Regions from separate parts of the Homo sapiens genome. Here all the other regions are reported to be linked to region 1. Evidence: microRNA targets listed by miRTarBase, many of them from high-throughput screens and not tested one by one. Region 1 holds a microRNA gene; each other region holds the end of a gene's coding sequence.

The links. Region 1 holds the annotated microRNA hsa-miR-4789-3p (CACACAUAGCAGGUGUAUAUA, at 2,458-2,478, opposite strand). A microRNA usually pairs through its seed, bases 2 to 8, with sites in the 3' UTR of a target mRNA and lowers its output. Matches are read on the target gene's strand: a 7mer-m8 pairs with bases 2 to 8, a 7mer-A1 pairs with bases 2 to 7 and ends in A, and an 8mer does both.
Region 2: the mRNA of PHKA1 is a reported target of hsa-miR-4789-3p. Seed matches in the 3' UTR shown: 7mer-m8 at 2,288-2,294.
Region 3: the mRNA of MGAT4C is a reported target of hsa-miR-4789-3p. The part of its 3' UTR that is shown has no 7-base or 8-base seed match.

The regions. Positions count from the first base shown.
Region 1 is chr3:175,367,999-175,372,067 of GRCh38, reverse strand. MIR4789 (microRNA 4789) reads right to left here and starts at 2,528; the gene lies at 2,447-2,528. The region is part of intron 5 of NAALADL2 (N-acetylated alpha-linked acidic dipeptidase like 2); the gene reads right to left.
Region 2 is chrX:72,577,471-72,581,539 of GRCh38, forward strand. PHKA1 (phosphorylase kinase regulatory subunit alpha 1) reads right to left here. Exons shown (of 32, transcript NM_002637.4): 32 at 1,344-3,705. The coding sequence ends at 3,532. Among named protein-coding and RNA genes, the nearest start is that of HDAC8, 6.7 kb to the left of the region's middle.
Region 3 is chr12:85,975,846-85,979,914 of GRCh38, reverse strand. It overlaps MGAT4C (MGAT4 family member C), which reads left to right. Exons shown (of 5, transcript NM_001351288.2): 5 at 1-4,069. The coding sequence ends at 626. Among named protein-coding and RNA genes, the nearest start is that of NTS, 100 kb to the right of the region's middle.

The sequences.
Region 1 (4,069 bases):
ACTCTAAGATGCTATGGCTGGACTTTTTTTAGAGTAATTATATTTGTCTATTTCATGTTATGGTAGGAATTTGCCCTAAGGAAGTAGAACTAGTTTAGCTCAGAATGGCAATATTTCTTCTAAAACTTATTAGGAAACTAGAAGGAACGCTTTGTGGATGTAGTTTTCCTAAAGGTCATGCAGAACTTCCAGGTATTACAGATTTTGAAAGATGAATAATAGCCATTTTAGTGGTTATCTTTTTTTTTTTTTAATAGATGGAGTTGTCCAGGCTGGAGGGCAGTGGCATGATCTTGGCTTACTGCAACCTCCGCCTCCTGGGTTCAAGTGATTCTCCTGCTTCAGCCTCCTGAGTAGCTGGGATTACAGGCCCCTGCACCACACCCAGCTAATTTTTGTATTTTTAGTAGAGACGGGATTTCGCCATCTTGGCCAGGCTACTCTTGATCTCCTGACCTCAGGTGATCCACCCGCCTTGGCCTCCCAAAGAGCTGGGATTACAAGCATGAGCCGTCGTGCCCAGCTCATATCATTCTCAAAGGACTTTTGTAGCACACAGAATGGTTTCTAAATAATATTATCCATATCTTGACTAACACGGTGAAACCCCATCTCTACTAAAAATCCAAAAAATTAGCCGGGCGCGGTGGCGGGCGCCTGTAATCCCAGCTACTCAGGAGGCTGAGGCAGGAGAACGGCGAGAACCCGGGGGGCGGAGCTTGCAGTGAGCCGAGATAGCGCCACTGCAGTCCGGCCTGGGCGAAAGAGCGAGTACTCCGTCTCAAAAAATAATAATAATAATAATATCATCCATAATATTAGTTGATAGTCTCTTCATAATTCTAAATCCAGCATTTTTCAAAGCATTACCAATGAAGGAGAACTTTTAAGATGAAGCTAAATATAAAAAAAAAGTGAATTACTGCAAATTACTATACATAGTATAATTTGAAATTTTGGTAATATTGTCTAAGACAAATCATCCTTTTGGGATAGTTTTTTTCCATACTGTTCAAACTACCCTTCATCCTATAACGGCAGACATGGCCTAATGATTCTCATTTTTAATCAACAGTGTTGTCAGACATTTCAATGATTCTGAACATAATGTTATGACATTCAGGGCCAGAGAGCAAGCATTCTCTACTTGCTCTCAGCTGAAAGCAAAGAGGTTCTCAAGAGCTGCCAGCCTTTCTCCTTTATGCTCTGAAAGCCTCCTAAACTTGTCAGTTTACTTCCATTACCCTTTTATTGAAAACAATGAAAGAAAAAAAGTTACTACGGTGTTTATACTTTTAAAGTGAATGTCTTTTGTAATAAGGTAGAAATATCACAGAACCATCGAATGTTGGAATCAGAAGCATGTTTGGCATATCATCAAGTACAATAGCCACATCCTGCCTATGTGGAAAGCTGGAGGGGCTAAAGGACCTCTCAAAGCTACACATGTAGAGTCAGCAGCAGAGCAGAGCTTAAAGCAGCAAGTGACTCTTACGGCCATCAGTAATCACACTCTTGCTTAACATGCAAATGAATAAAGCTATTTTTATAAAATCCCTCCCCCCCCCATATATTGGCAGTAACTCTAAATTCTAGTCATTTTTTAACCATTACAGAATAAGATTAGAAGCATCAGTAGTTAATGGTGATAATAATTTCCATTTTATATGGGGTTTTATGGTTCACAAATATATTTTATAAAATAAGTTTCTAACATTTCATTTTCTTATATTGAGGGCTTTTAAAAGAAATAACCAAAACCTATTTTATTAAAATTTGATATTTAAAATTATAGTTGAGAATAGTGGAAGATTTTTCCCATTATCTTTGCTCTCCTGGATAGCAACCAGATAAATGACTTCCCAGAGAAATGCATAGAGTCATATAAGATAAAACGTCTTTTTTTCTCCATTTTACTCAGAGTTTGATGATGAACTATGACTGGATATTGAAATAATCATTCTTTTATCCTTTGTAGTAAGGCTTACTTTGTCCAGTGGCAACATGATCAGACAAGCAGCTCTCAGATGACATGTGACAATATTAAATTCAATCTTAGCAAGCAGCTTCTCAATTTCACACTTGTGGTAGCTGGATTAACCCAATTATTTTTTGGAGGTTAAGGGAAACTTTCACATTTGCAGAATACCATCCTTCAGAAACCGGAATGTAGGATTTTGTTATCTCAAAGAATTTTATGGAGATGGAAAGATCAGTTAGTATTAAATTTTAGCACACAATCAGATGAAGGGTTTAGGAAGAAGTAGATATGATTACCTAATAATTCACTTTGAGTTCTTCACTTTGAGCCTCAAAAATGTGTGAAACTTGGGACTTTTACTAAGCATATCTTTCAGGCAAAATATTTTCATTGTACCAGTTCCAAGCTCTTGGTTCTAACACAAAACCCCTGCTACACATACACACACATGCACTCACACACACACAGGCTACCTATATATACACCTGCTATGTGTGTGGATATGTATTTACACATACACATATCAGGTGTATACATACGTAGCATGTATATATACACATACACACACACGCACACAGGCACACACATACTTGTTACCTATATATGTATACATGCACATATCAGGTGTATGTAAATGTAACATGTATATGTACACACACGCACACAGGCACACACATACTTGTTACCTATATATGTATACATGCACATATCAGGTGTATGTAAATGTAACATGTATATGTACACACACGCACACAGGCACACACATACTTGTTACATATATAATTACACATGCACATATCAGGTGTATGTAAATGTAACATTTATATATACACACGCGCACACAGGCACACACATACTTGCTACATATATATACAGTCAGGTGCTGCATGATGACATTTTGCTCAAGAACAAATCACATACATGAGGGTGGTTCCATAGATTATAGTGGAGCTGAAAAACTCTAGTGGCATTGTTCTCATTGTGACATTAGTGCAATTACTTAATTTTTAAAACAAATTTAGTGTAACCTAAGTGTACAGTGTTTATAAAGCCTACAGTAATGCATAGTAACGTCTTAGGCCTTCACATTTGCTCACTGCTCATTCACAGATCCACCCAGAGCAACTTCTACTCCCACAAGTTCCATGAAAAGTGCCCTATACAGGGGTGGCAATTTTTTTTAATCTTTTATATCATATTTCGCTGTACCTTTTCTGTGTTTAGATATGTTTAGATATACAAATACCACTGCATTGTAATTGCCTACAGTGTTCAGTACAATAACATGCTATGCAGGTTTGTAGCTTAGAAGTAATAAGCTATACGACATAACCTAGTTGTTTAGGAGGCTACACAATGTGTTTGTGTTATGTGCACTCTATGATGTTCTCTCAACAATGAAGTCACCTAATGATGCATTTCTCAGAAAGCATCTCCATTATTAAATGGCACATGAACGTATTTGCTACATATATACATACTGGCTATAAACACACACACACACACACACACACTCACACACACCTGCTACAGTCCTTTCAAAGTATAAAAAAAGATACCAAAATGTGTTAGAGATTCGTTTGTAAAATGTAACTATTTTCGGACCAGATGGATTCACAGCCGAATTCTACCAGAGGTACAAGGAGGAACTGGTACCATTCCTTCTGAAACTATTCCAATCAATAGAAAAAGAGGGAAACCTCCCTAACTCATTTTATGAGGCCAGCATCATCCTGATACCAAAGCCAGGCAGAGACACAACCAAAAAAGAGAATTTTAGACCAATATCCTTGATGAACATTGATGCAAAAATCCTCAATAAAATACTGGCAACCCGAATCCAGCAGCACATCAAAAAGCTTATCCACCATGATCAAGTGGGCTTCATCCCTGGGATGCAAGGCTGGTTCAATATACGCAAATCAATAAATGTAATCCAGCGTATAAACAGAACCAAAGACAAAAACCACATGATTATCTCAATAGATGCAGAAAAGGCCTTTGACAAAATTCAACAACGCTTCATGCTAAAAACTCTCAATAAATTAGGTATTGATGGGATGTATCTCAAAATAATAAGAGCTATCT
Region 2 (4,069 bases), not on the chromosome of region 1:
GGAAGGGAGTTTCCCCCTACTGTCATCCTTACCCCCATACCACTACTGCACAAGTACTACTAGTGGTTTGAGAATAAGTTCTTGGTTTTTTGGCTTAGCCTTAAAAGAAATCACACATCTGCTAAATATAGGGTGACCATATCTTTCAAACTGAGACATTTTTTGAGAGTGACACAGTGCTATTGATAATTATGCCAGTAAAACAGGCATAAATGGGGGCTGCCCTGGACAAACCAACACCTGAGGTTACTCAAGTTAAAAAGGAAATGAATGTCTACCAAATATAAGAATAAAAATTGATGGCTGTATTTTTTTAAAATTAAATAAATAAAAAGGAAATGAAGACTACATGTGGAAAATAATCTCCACTGCATTAGTGCAGACACTAGGTACTTGGTAAGTAGAAAAAGGAATGGCAGAGGTTTTGCCAGCTGTGGTGAAGAACAACTTTTGCCCCACCAGTTGTGTAAGATTCCCAGAATGTAGTAAAATTTCATTAACCAGGATGGAACTGTAGAGACAATGTTCATCCTTGCTGGATAAATCCTGTTATAGAAAAGGCTAATGAATAGTATAAACAAACAAGATTCTGCCAAATATTTTTAATATTTAGAAAAACAAGTTGTTTTAAAATACCCTTCATTAGGGAAGAAGCACCATTTGTACACAATTGAAAGGCTGAGTAAAAATGTTTTACTCATTCATCAGAAAATGTTCCCTACAGGCCAGGCGCGGTGGCTCACGAGTGTAATCCCAGCACTTTGGGAGGCTGAGGCAGGCGGATCACCTGAGATCAGGAGTTTGAGACCAGACTGGCCAACATGGTGAAACCCCGTCTCTACTAGAAATACAAAAAAAATTAGCTGGGTGTGGTGGCGCATGCCTGTAATCCCAGCTACTCGGGAGGCTGAGACAGGAGAATCGCTTGAATCCGGGAGGCAGCGGTTGCAGTGAGCCGAGATCACCCCACTGCACTCCAGCCTGGGCGATAGAGCAAGACTCCGTCTTAAAAAAAAAAAAAAAGAAAAGAAAAGAAAAGAAAAGAAAAGAAAAGAAAAGAAAAGAAAAGAAAAGAAAAGAAAAGAAAATGTTCCCTACAGATGTCAATAAGCCCGCTTGAATTTAGTAAGCCTTGTTTGAGTGGGTATGTATTTGAATGATTAAACTGCATTTCTTTACATATATTATCTAACATATTATGAAATGTATAATATATTATATATGTATTAATATATTAATATTATTCTACTTCAACCCAATGAATGAGCTTTGACTGTACTGTATAATTAAGCAGAGTATGTAGAATAAAGCCATGAAATAAACTCCAATCACAAAAACACATGTGAAGTTTTGCACATTGGCACCAGACATGATTTAATTGGAAATTCTTATTATTTATTCTATTTTCAAAACATAAGTGCTTTTTTAAAAAAAGTCTAACATGTCTTTTTAGTACCACACACTTAAAATGAACAAAAAACAAGTCGAGTTTTCTTAAAAGTTGCTTTAAAAGTTAAATACCACTGTATGGGGACCATAATGACACAATTTCGTAAACTCAGAGAAATGCAGCCCTTCGAGTAAGTTCAGGCAAATGAGTGTGGGAAGGAGTGGATCTTTTGCCTGTGGCACTACAGATATACTCCCTGAGATTGGGGTACACTTACAACCAGTGAAAAGACAAATAGTTTCAGAACAGGTTGTAAACTTTCTTTAAAAGTGACCAGAAAATAATGTAGTCAGAAAGCTACTTACTGTGTGTTTCCATTTGCTCTGAGAGAAGTGCTGAAAAGGTTTGCTGTCCTCTCTTTGTTTCTACTATCTGTATTCTATCACCCTACTATATGCTTACTTATTCATTATATTCATAAGATTGTCACTGGTTCTGCAAGAATTGTTCAGAGAGTCTCTCATCCCCACCCTCACCATTCCCAATATTGGGGAAAAACTTTAGAAATCCAAGATAAAGGAGGGGGTTGAAGTAGGAAGTTATCTAAGTGCAAAAAGGGAAGTTAACAGAGTCTCTGCACAATTCAGAAGAAGGAGAGTTAGAAGAAACATTTGTCAAGCAAGGCTACCTACATATGGGATGAAGGAAGAGGACTGAAGCTATTCTTCCACCAATCTGTGTGTGTCAATCTGAGTCCACAGTCACATCCCTTCTCTCACATGCAACATTCTTACTCAGTCCATCAAATGTAGATACAGATTGATATACAGACACATCAAAACTGCTTACATTCAGAAAAATTCCCATGTATGCTTATACACACACACACACACACACACACATACACACACAAATATGTGTCTTTATAAGAAACAGACATATGCCCACAGATACCATGATATACAGGGATATGTACACTAGAATTAGGAAGTGAAAATATATATGAAAGAGTTTAAGAATAGATGGGGGGATAGGGTGTCAGGGAGTTGAGTTGGATGTAGTAGAAAGTAGGTGAGTGAGACAGAGACCAGGAGCACATGAAAAGAATGCTAAGTAGAGCACCTATAGACTGGACTGCTGTATTTATCTTTGCTGAATACAGACGCTTCAAATTATTGTCTGTGTTGTGTATTGGCCCATTTTTCAAAGGCAGGGATTAAGCGCATAAGGCTGTCTTCAGGGAACTAAGCCACCTCTGATTCCCTCTCTGTTCCCTATGTATAAGACATTGTCCAGGCATCGTCTCTTCTTTCCCTTCCTCTCTGGAATTGGGCTCCGGGCTCCATTTCTGGGTTATTCTGCATTTTCTGCTGCAAATACAACTCTGAGTACCAACAATCTTTATAAAATGTGATTTCAAGTGTTAGTTCAGAAATTCTTAAATATGCATGCTGTACTTGCATTTTTTTGATATTTCACCAAAGTGAGAGAGGCATTATGTGTGCAGACACAGAGAGGGCAACAGTAGAGACAATGATTCTACATAGAAACAATTTTAAATTATCACTCAGTGTGAAGCAACCTGTAAGTAAGGAAGAAAACCATGATCCAGTACTCTCTTTTCCTAAGAAAAGGCACGTAGAATAGGTAATTCTAATTTATAGCAGCATAAATATTTAACAATTTAGAGTTTACTCATTTGAAATAATGTCCCAAAGTACCCACCACTCATATACACAATAAAATCACAAAAAAGAAAAACCAAGCTTTAGGAATAAGTTATTATTAACACTTGCTCCCCAAACAGGAGTTAGAAAACTATATTGGTAACAGATCTAGAGAATAAAAACACATGCAAACTTTTATGAATGATGAAAGAAATAAAGCCAATCATGACAGGCCTGGCTGAGTGTTCATTATACTCATAAGATTGTCACTGGTTCTGCAAGGTGAGCCTCCAGGTAAGTGTTCACTTCTTCTACAGTAGTTAGTTTATCGAAAAAGTTCTCTCTTCTTGGGAAGGATGGGACAGAAAGGGGCAGGGTTGGAGTGATTAGGCAATAACATTTTAGTTCCATGCACAATCAACCGAGGCAGGGACCAGCTGTCAAAAGGCTCCCAGAAGCCAGGAACCAAAGCCCTCATTGCATGGCACAGATGCTGTGGGGCAGGAACTCCTGCACGTAGGTGGCGGCTGCCTTGGAGAGGTAGGTCATGGTGCCAAACCTGCCACTGGGTGCACTGTCATACAGAAGAGTACAGATGCCAGATGCGGGATCCTTTGCCAACATGGTATCATCTGCGCCAAGGGTTTTCTGTTTGGTTTTTAAGGGTAGAAGAACATAGGGGAAAGGAAAAATTACCAATCTTACTAAGTAAAGTCCTGATTAGCATAATTCAGAACCTCCTCCCCAACACCAATTAGTTGGGCCCTAGACTGTTTATCCAGGAAGAAATAGGTTTATGGACAAAAGGGTGAATATGAGTTTGTATGCAGGCATTTTTCACTAGGTCCCCAAATCATGTAAATTATTTAAAAATTATTAATTGTTTAGAATTTTCCCCATTATGATCAATTTCTAAAAGTTAAATATAATCATTCATCTATTGAGTCATACCTATTAATAGACAAATGTTAACACAAATCACCGTAGTAGAGCTTTGGTCTGACTCCTTCTA
Region 3 (4,069 bases), not on the chromosome of region 1:
GTTTGGCCCATTTTTTATTAATGTTTTATCAAGAAATGCCTTGTGATTGGCTATTGACTCATTTCCGTGGTCTGTTGGCTCAGAAAAATGTGATCCGTTTTAAACCATCTCTCTTTCAGCACATGGGCTATTATTCATCATACAAAGGGACGGAGAATAAGCTGAAGGATGATGATTTTGAAGAGGAGTCATTTGACATTCCTGATAACCCCCCTGCAAGTCTGTACACCAACATGAATGTGTTTGAAAATTATGAAGCAAGCAAGGCTTACAGTAGTGTTGATGAGTACTTTTGGGGGAAACCACCTTCAACAGGAGATGTTTTTGTGATTGTATTTGAAAATCCAATTATAATAAAAAAAATTAAAGTAAATACTGGAACAGAAGATCGGCAAAATGATATTTTGCATCATGGAGCCCTAGATGTTGGGGAAAACGTTATGCCTAGCAAACAAAGGAGACAATGTTCTACTTACTTAAGACTAGGAGAATTCAAAAATGGAAACTTTGAAATGTCAGGTGTAAATCAAAAAATTCCATTTGATATACATTGTATGAGGATATATGTCACCAAAACACAAAAGGAATGGCTAATTATTAGGAGTATTAGCATTTGGACTTCTTAGCCAATTAAATCAGTATGTTCAGTTTCTGAAGCAGTTCTTCCTGCTTCGTCTTTTGCTACCTTTGTCTTTTGGAGGGAAAGCAATGGATGGGATATGTTAAAAGAAACATTAATTACATTGGCAGTTTTCATTTATACATTGTTGACATAATTTTACTCTTAATACACACTTGTATTTATTTTAACGTCTGAAGTTGAATATCAGTCTATAGCTAATGCTACTTTCATTTATATTTTTAAATGTTCTTAGTTTTAAAATTTCAACTGATTGTCGAAAGGGTAATATGAAAGATTTTAAATGAAAAAAATTTGTTGGATGATGATTTTTGAAAAATAGTCACCAACTGTATATACTTCCTCAAGAACTGATAATTCATTATATCATCAGATAGCTTTTATTAAGCATCTGTGGGAATATACAGTTGGGTGGAATGATAATCTGGTTTATTTTTTCTGTAAACTTAAGTTTCCGTTGACTTCTGTACATCTACAATGAATACCTCCTCATAGAAGTGGTGTCTTTACATAATTTTTTGTGTAGGTGACACTATGGAAAAAGAAAAAAAAGACTTAAAAATATCTCTCCCCTGATTATTTATATGAAAGGGGATATTGTTCATTGTTTAAAAACATTTAATTGAGCACCTATTGTTGATAAATTTTCTGGGGGAAGCAGTCTTTTTCAAGTTTCCCTTTTGAAAAAAAAAAAGAAGAGTTAAGCTCAATATTTTCAGGTTACATTGAGTACCCACATTTAATAGAATAAATTAGGGAAGGCCTATAGTAGTTAGCTCATTCGTACAGACATTTTCAGTATATGCAGAAAATTTTTGGAAATTGATTTTATACATTTTGTATTAAAATCCATGTGATTGAAATTATTGTGATTTATCATATACCTTTTTGGAATTTAAATGGGTATATTATAAAGGAGAAAAGTAAGAACCATAGAAATTAGTTGACTTTTCTAGAATCAAAGATCTATTTCCTAGCAAGGCCAGAATGAGAGATCTGATATTCTGATAACCAGACAATGCTCTTTTTCTCGTATGATTTCTCCTGACAGATTTATGCTTTGTGTTCTATTTGCTACATGCCTGTCAGATAATAAGTTATACCATCTGGAAATAGGTGGTACAATTCCTGCATAAATAATATTATCCTAAATAATGTCCTAAATGATGCTTTTTTGGTATAAGCACCCAAATAGTAAGCAAACTTGACTAAACTTTTCCTAATAGGGATTGGAGAGTGTGTCTTTACAATGTGTCCGTTAAAGTAATTCAGGACACCTTAGTGTGTCCTAAAGACATTGGTTTTCAGAATGTCCTGAGCTTGTCTCTTCCTTTTTGTTTTTTAATGAACAGCAAAAACTAAGGGATTTATTATAAAGGGAAATGGAAGGTGCTTCATATATGTTTAAGAAACTCAAGTACGTGTTCATATAGATGACTCTGTGTGTGTGTGTGTGTGTGTGTGTGTGTGTGTGTGTGTGTGTGTGTGTGTGTGAAGGCTAGACTTTTGCTGGTAAGACAGAATGAGGAAATCTTCCTGCTCTTCCTTTTCATACTGAAACACAATCCTTAAGATTTACTGGTATGCTGTGGTGCAAACAACACTAGGATATTTTTATTTTATTCGTTCTCTGCAAATAAATGAGAAACTCAGATAAAAAATGGAAACTTTTTATTTCATTTATAAACAGCTGTTGTGTATTTTCTTTGTATTCAGCTACTAAAGTGTTAGAAGAAAAACGAACCTTTCATAAGAGGCTAAATATTAATATTTTGTGAGGCACCTAAATCTTACAGTCATAGGAAAATATGAACACTGCCACTAAATTATTATCTTTACCTTGATTTAGAGGATACTTGCCAGACACCTAAAAATGTTCTATTTTCTTTATTTTTCTTATCTTTTATTAACCGGCTAGTTGATAGTATTGTGTGTATATCTCAGAAGTTACAAATGGCATTATTTTCTTCACTGTCAATGATAAAAGGTACACAATTGTATGCCAAAGACATGTAATATCAAGAGCTAGGCAGACTCCCTGAAATGAGTTGTAACCCCTTACATATTCTTCTGGGAATGGCTTTCTAAAGATCAGCTATTGGTGTCTATCAATGTCTTAAAAATGTTTCAAGAAACATTGCTGAGGGTAGCAGTGAAGTTGGATGTTTGCTAGGAAATTATGAAAACAAATGTGACTCAGAGAGGTCATTTCACATTTTATCTTTATATCCTCTCTTTACTAAACCTGTGTTTGGATAAGTTGGTCAATCATCCAAGGATCCTCTATGTTTTCTTTACAGTTGACACTGGGTCAATTTTCTAAGGAAAACACCTTGACAAATAAAGCATCTTCATTAGAGGTCAGGAGGAAAAATAACTATTCTCTTTCAAAAGAAAATCTGAACAATTTTTTTAGCATGGCCCAATGTTCTATTTCCTATATTTAGAAACTTTGAATAAGGGTCTAGTAATCTTGTCTCAGAGGCATAGAAACAAAAGTACAGTTATTAGGTTTAACTATACTCAAACTATTTGCTATTTTTAAACATTTTTGCTGTAAGTTTATATATATATACATATATAATACATATATACATATATATAATATATATATACATATATATATAATTTTCTTTGTTAAAAATAACAATTGAAAAAGACTGGCATGAGACATGAATGGCTGAGTCATTTAATTGCCATACAAATAAAATGCTGACAGGTTTCAAGCAAAAAATACAGTATGCACCTTAAATAATGCCTCAGAATTGTATAATTTAAGCTCACTAAAAACCTTACTTAGTCTTAAAATTCTCCTTAGGGGAGCCTTTTCAGCAGTTATGGACATCAAAGAAAAAAGTATCTTGTAAAAGCACAATGAAATTTAGAAAATACACATTTTAGTGGCAATCACAAATGTCAATATAAAAGATACATAAAATATGTTAATGCAAGAACTTTTTCATATTCATTGAAAACTATAACTTTGTGCTATTTATAAAGTAGATATTTTCCAGGTATGAAAATATAATTTGGAAACCAACCTGTCGTTTAGATCTATTTCTTTCATATAGCTACACTATGAGTTGTGAACATTCCATTTCTTACTGGGCCAGTATTCTCTGGGAATTTTTATAATGCTATCATAGAAAAACTGTTCTGTATAATAATTATATAAAAAATGAAACAAACATTTTCAAATTGTAATATATGATGTGGTATGGAAAGTACCTACATTTTTAGATGCTCAAATATTGGCATATTTCATGTCAGTATTTGCCAATTTGTCAACAAGTTTATGGCAAAGAACATGATACCAGGATTAACATTGAAAACACTACATCCAGTGCCATCTAACAATTGAAGGAAACAGTGTGTAATTCTCTTCTTTTTCCTTGACAATACATCCATCAACACAGTAATGGCATCATA